Homo sapiens: one gene and its partner. The protein of the gene in region 2 interacts with the protein of the main gene of each other region in a pairwise test. Each region holds a gene or a part of one and is shown on either strand. Other genes may lie near its edges.

Region 1 (3,258 bases), on a different chromosome or scaffold from region 2:
TGCACACGCATACACACACATGCGCACACATGGACAGCAAGTCACAATAAAGCCTCACCATTTGAAGAGGTAGAAATCATAGAGCTTGATGGGACATCTCAATGGATTCTCTGGATTTTCCGTCTGTTCTGCATACATGTCATCTGTAACTATAAAACACACATCCCCACCACCACAGACCTGGCATCAGACTGCCTTACCTCAGGCCCAGATCAGGAAACTTAGGCTTTCAGCCAGCCCAACTAGGAAATACAGGGTCGGGGGAGGGAAGGTATGAGGCATGGGCAGTGACTACTAAGGGAAGAGGCAGCTATTCTGTCTGGGGCTTCTCTGCTTCTAGGAGGAAAGTTTGGAATTTTTGGCTGGGGAGAAGGGAGTGGAGAATTTTATCCAGCAAATCCCAACCTTTACACTTATCACTAGCCTCACAGGCACAAGGGCAGGACAGGGCAGGACAAGTAGCACCTGTTTTTGCCATCCCTGCCTCCTTTCCCTACCTTTCTGGCCAGTCTGGTGTATTCCAAGGGCCTTCAAGTACCGGATACTCGTGCTTTTATCCTTGGGATTAGAGGGGTTCTTCTTTGTCTGTCGCAAGACCTTGGAGAAGGCCAGCTTCATGTGCTGGTCCACTGTCTTCAATAGGAAGTACCTGGATCACAAGTAAAATGCAAGGCAGAGGGAGGGGTGCCGGGAGGATACCATGACTCATCCTCTGCCCACTGGTGCTTCAGAGGAGCCACTGCCCACATTCCCAAGATCTGGGCAGGCCCGTACCCAAGCAGTGTCCAGTGCAGGAACCACATCAAGATGGATGGTAGGGGTCTGGCAAGGGTGTTTGCCTCACTGGTTACCAAATAAAATGCAGCCAAGTGGGGTTAGGGCTTTCAGTAGCCCAGTTTCTCAAATATATGTCAGAGGAATTCAGAAGGCCTCTTGGATAGCTTCCACACTCTTCACTGGACAGATGCCAGCAGTGGAGCCTCTAGAACACTTACTTGGTATTAAAGAACATGAGGGTGGTCAGCAAGGTGGAGGGGGAGTGAGCCCCAAGCTGCTTGCACTCCCATAGCATCTCCTCAGTCACGTGGCTGGGCAAGACATAGCCTAGGAGGAATAGAGTACTGTCACAACAAGAGGATGGCAGGTGGTCTCTCAAAGGTACAATATGGGATGTGTGAAGCATAAGGACCACACAGGAGTATAAATTTCATCAGGGGACTCTCCCTAAAGTGTGGCAAAAATCATCTGGAAAGCTTCTTAAAACACAGATAGCTGGGTCCCAATCTGTTTCTGAGGTGGAACCTGATGATGAGCACTTCTAACACCACACTTGAGAACCACAGCCTTACATGATTGTTGTTACCCTCTAATCCAAGGCTAACACAGGGCAAAAAGACTGCCCTCAGAGACAGTGAAGTACAGAAAACTATAAACCAAACTCTGCATATATGCATAATTCTCTGAGAGTGTACAGAGCTTTGCATATTTTCAAAGGTGGTCCAGGACCCAAAGAACTGGCATGCACGCCCGTTTGCCCTTACCAAGTCTTCTCTCATCTCAACTGTCTCTAAAAAGCAAGGCCGGCCAGGCGCAGTGGCTGATGCCTGTAATCCCAGCACTTTGGAAGGCCGAGGCGGGTGGATCACGAGGTCAGGAGATTGAGACCATCCTGGCCAATATGGTGAAACCCCGTCTCTACTAAAAACACAAAAAATAGCCGGGTGTGGTGGCGGGCTCCTGTAGTCCCAGCTAATCGGGAGGCTGAGACAGGAGAATGGTGTGAACCCAGAAGGTGGAGCTTGCAGTGAGCCGAGATTGCACCACTGCACTCCAGCCTCGGCAACAGAGCGAGACTCCCATCTCAAAAACAAAAAAACAAAAAAACAAAAAAAACAAAAAAAACGGCTATTGTCATTTCTTCTCTAGATAAAGAGACTGATACTCTTTGGGGGATTTTATTATTATTATTATTATTATTATTATTAGCTAAGATACAGGGTCTCTTCTACAATATTTATCTTTTTTTAAAAAAGGAAGACCAGGCATGGTGGCTCACGCCTGTAATCCGAGAACTTTGGGAGGCGGAGGTGGGAGAATTGTTTGAGCCCAAGAGTTGAAGACCAGCCTGGGCAACATAGCCAGACCTCATCTCCACTGAAAATCAAAAAAATTAGTCGTGTGATGGTGCACATCTGTGATCCCAGCTACCAGGGAGGCTGAGGTGGGAGGATTCCTTGGGCCTGGGAGGTCAAGGCTGCAGTGAGCCGTGATCGCACCACTGTACTTAAGCCTGGGTGACAGAGTGAGATCCTGTCTCAAAAAAAAAAAAAAGGGAAAAAAAAGAGATGGGGTTTCGCTCTGTCACCCAAGCTAGAGTACAGTGACACAATCATGGCTAACTGCAGCCTTGAGCTCTTGGACTCAAAGACTCCTCCTGCCAGTTTCCTGAGCAGTTAGAAATACAGGCGTGAACCACCACGCCTAGCCAATATGCCAGTATTTGAACTATTACAAGATCCCCCCCACAGGGCTGGTGTTACTGTAAGACCCTGGTTCATAAGTGAGCCCAGAGCTAGGTACAGGCAAAGGTCAATAATTTGAATAAGAGCCCTGGTCAGCCAGGTCTGCACCAAAGAAAGATGACATTTGAATGACTACCAAGCCCCTTCATGTGCTGAAGTCAGTCAGTATGCACATGTTTGTGCACTGGGTGCATAATGAGATAGGAGCAGGCAACAGTATTCTCCTGCAGGGTTTCGGGATTCTCCAAGCAAGCACAGTGTGTGACACTTCCTGGAAGCAGAAAAAAGAACATTCTGCCCGATACACTCCTCTTCTGTGTTCTATGCTCTTGCCAAAACAAAGCTGGCTCTCTAATAGTGCATTTCCATCTCTTTAAGGCAGTTCTGACTCTATTTTTTGTCTACTTTTCGGCTATTTTGTGACCCAGTGGCAATGGGAAAAGCTTTTCTGCTCTTAGACATATCTGAAGCCCCCAAGATCCAGGATGAGCAGAAAACAGCCCTTCTCAGCAAAGAAGGATTCAAGGAATCCTCTCACCTCAGCCTCCCTAGTAGCTGGGATCACAGGTGTGCACCATCACACTCGATTATTTTTTTTGATTTTTAGTGGAGATGAGGTCTTGCTATGTTGCCCAGGCTGGTCTTCAAATCTTGGGCTGAAGCAATTCTCCTACCTCGGCCTACCAAAGTTCTGGGATTACAGGCGGGAGCCACCATGCCTGGCCTTCCTTTTCTT
Region 2 (3,826 bases):
TTTTAAGTGTACAGCTCAGTAGTATTAAGTATATTTAACTCCTTATTTTGAGTATTTATCTTCTATTAATACAGTCTACAATAGCTTCACCATTTTTTGGTGGTCATATCATACTGTTGACTCATGCTCAGCTAACTTTCGATTAAATACGTGGTTCTTTTTGATCTAGAACTGGTTAAAATATATCCCTCTAGGACATAGTTAGATAGAAATTCTATTGGATCCCAAACAGATCTAATATATACTTATATTTTTTATTTTAAGTTTCACCTTCTTAGAGTCAAACAACCATTTCCAGGCTTTCAAGATCTTTTTGGATCTTCTAGAATCTGCCACCAGGAGGCTCATGGAAGAGGGGTTTCCACTGAGAACAAATTTATAAAATGGGTGTTGTTTTCCAGAGGCTACTGTACACTGCCACATTCTCCTCAGGTTGCATTTCCTCTAAATTTGACATGAATTTGATGATGTCCACTTTCTAAAAGTCATACCTAAGACTTGGAGAGGTTAAACAGTTTGCCCAAAGTCACACAGTTGATAAGTGTCAAAGCCAGGATTCAAATCTAAGTCTGCCCAAGATTTCCCTGAGCTCACTCTTAGAAAGGCTAGGCCTTTTTTTTTTTTTCCTGAGATGGAATCTTGCTATGTCATCCAGGCTGGAGTGCAGTGGTGTGATCTTGGCTCACTGCAACCTCTGCCTCCGGGGTTCAAGTGATTCTTCTGCCTCAGCCTCCCAAGTAGCTGGACTACAGGCGTGCACCACCATGCCCGACTAATTTTTGTATTTTTAGTAGAGACGGGATTTCATTATGTTGGCCAGGCTGGTCTTAAACTTCTGACCTCAGGTGATCCGCCTGCCTTGGCCTCCCAAAGTGCTGGGATTACAGGCAAGGCTAATCTTAAAAAGAGACTTGATCTCCAGGCTTGACATATGTAAGAAACATATGTCTGATTCACAAGAGATGCTAAATGTTTCTTTCGATCCACCCGACCCCCAACCCCCACTATTTGAGACATGATTTTTGGACTCCCAGAAAAAAATGACCAATAGCCAATTCTGGAAGTCGAGAGGAAACTGGTGACAATACAGATGTCTTTCAGCCTGTTTCAGGGTGACAGCTTAGAGGAAAGGCCAGCCTCAGGGAGCAGATGTTCAATTAGAGGATAGGTGAGCAGATAATGTTGACTGTGAGGAAGATGACTGGGACAGGAACTAATGCTTACTGAGAACTCACTACCTGCCAGGAATAAAACTGTTCTGGCATAGAATTGGGACTTAGGAGCTGATTCTAGTAGAAATGGGAACCAAGGGATAGCTGAAGAAACTTGGGGGCATCTTCCTCTCTTCTCTTCTTTATACTCTCACCATGTCTTTTCTCTTCCTTAACTGATTAGAATATGAAATAAATCTATTTTTATTGGTTGGTTGTTAAGTGTGGGTTTATACTGATTCTTAATTCCAATAGTAAGAGTTGTAAAAAGCATTAGGATGAGAGAGACTGCATTAGTTTTCACCCTGCTATTAACTAGCTGTGTGACTAAGAACATATCACAGCCTTTCAGATTTCTGTTTCTACCTGACTTTATATGGGTTGATGGTGATCAATGAAAAAATATATTTTAGATTGGAATATATACGGAAGCAAAATTTTGGTGGGGTACTTACAGAGGACCCAAACACCTAGCTGCTTCCAAATACGAAGCACAGAAGATGATTTAAAGTTTTAAGCAGCTATACAGTTAACACAAACCTTTAAGGGCCTAAAAAATCAAAGGGTCCCAATATTTCTTCTCTTAATCTTCCATTATCTTTATTTTCTTGTCTATGTCCTAACCCTAAAGCTGGTTCTCTCCAAAATATCTCTTTGTAAAGATCTATGAGGCATTTCTATTACCAAGTGTAATATTTTAATAATTGCAACTAGAGTTAAAAAGAAATTTTTCTGCAAAATTAGTATTTTGGTTATGATTTAGGTACAACAGTTGAGTTTTCCCCAATGATAAATGTACAAAATTCATGGCAGATGGTCTTTTATCTTTCAATCTAATTAAGAAAGAAATTAGGAGAGCTAGGGTTAAAAATATAAACAGATTACACATTAGAATATCAAATGACAACATACTAAATATTGTGAAGTATGATTTCAAGTCTCATCTGGAAAAAATACATGTCTTTGAAAATGGTATGGTAAATACTTCCTGGTTAATTTTAGGCATATTTTTTCAATATTTCTAGCCTAGAATTTTTCAACTGTTCTTCATTCCCTGGTACATTTGAATTTTTTTATGCTACTATAAACTTGGAAAAGAGATAAGGATAGAGGAGCAAGTTTTTTTTTGTTTTTTGAGATGAAGTCTCACTCTGCTGCCCAGGCTGGAGTGCAGTGGTGAGATCTTGGCTCACTGCAACCTCTGCCTCCCGAGTTCAAGTGATTCTCCTGCCTCAGCCTCCCAAGTAGCCAGGATTACAGGCATGTACCACTGTGCCCGGCTAATTTTTGTAATTTTAGTAGAGATGGGGTTTCACCATGTTGGCCAGGCTGGTCTCGAACTCTTGACCACAGGTGATCCACTCATCTCGGCCTCCCAAAGTGCTGGGATTACAGGCGTGAGCCACCGTGCCCGGCCAAGGAGCCTACTTTAGTGAAACTTGGTATTGAGATCTTAATGACACAAAGGCATGCTCTCAAGTATGAAGTGGAATATACCATCTTTAAAATATACAGGAATTTCTGATGCTGATATCATTTATTTCCATTTTAACATGAAACAAAAGCAATGGGGAATAAGAAAGTACTATCAAAACCTAGGTTCAAAATGGGAAGATAACCTATATCTGATAATGAAGTAAGGGTTTAAAAATAATAAGATGTGGAAAAGATAAGACCAATGTTTACTAGATGGTCCCATTTATACTCAGGGTATAAGAGGGTAAAATTGCTTTGCAATGCTGTGCTTTGTGGTAATAAGAAACTATTCAAGTTGCCAACTGTTAACAAATTAAGCATGACTTTTAAATATATATTACTTTCCATAAATACATCAGAAAGTTCTTCAGAGTGGAGAAATATGGTCATATAACAAAACTATGACCTATACGTACAGAGTTTCAATTTGGGATGATGAAAAAGTTCTGGAGATGGACAGTGGTGAAGCTTGCTTGGCAATGTAAATGTAGTTAATGCCACTGAATTTCACACTTAAAATGGCAAAGTTTATGGTGTGCATATTTTACAATAAAACATAAAATAAAATATTGAAAAAAATAAAAGATAAAAGCATCTGAATCACTGCATGAAGGACAGCTGCCCTGCAGAGTCAACCTGCTGCTCAGAGGAAACTGCATGAGCAAGTGATGGTTGTTTTGCTACCATGACATAAACAATCCACTTCTGAATAACATTTATGATGGTTATTTGAAATGAAATGGTAGTTTTGTGACAAATTATAAATGGGATCTGATCAGAGAGCTCATATATTCCAGTAATGTATTTGATTACATTTAAGTGTGGCTTCAGCATTTGGTGGGAGAAATGAATAAACTCCAATTTTCTATAAATAAGAGTGTTTTACCTCTTCATTTCCCTCTTACAAGAAATGTTTTCATGACCTAAGAAAATAAATCTTTCATAATAATTTGTAATGGGGAGAAAAACTATGACCTACAGTACTGGGATGTTGGAAAAAAATAAATAAGATTCTGAGTTGGTCAAACAGATTCAAATCCCATCTTTACCCACAACTATATAGCCTTCAGCAAATTATGTAACCACTATGGACCGTTTTTTATTTCACCTAAAAGGTACAGAAATACAATGTGTAATTT

Evidence for each region.
Region 1: the proteins of ZMAT1 (region 2) and QRICH1 interact in a two-hybrid assay, tested with the Homo sapiens proteins (one large-scale study listed by BioGRID).

What each region holds. Positions count from the first base shown.
Region 1 is NC_000003.12:49,032,125-49,035,382, forward strand, and holds part of QRICH1 (transcriptional regulator QRICH1), read right to left. Parts: intron 1,105-3,258; coding exon 996-1,104; intron 650-995; coding exon 498-649; intron 150-497; coding exon 59-149; intron 1-58. UniProt on the Homo sapiens protein: Transcriptional regulator that acts as a mediator of the integrated stress response (ISR) through transcriptional control of protein homeostasis under conditions of ER stress.
Region 2 is NC_000023.11:101,921,784-101,925,609, forward strand, and holds part of ZMAT1 (zinc finger matrin-type protein 1), read right to left. Parts: intron 1-3,826.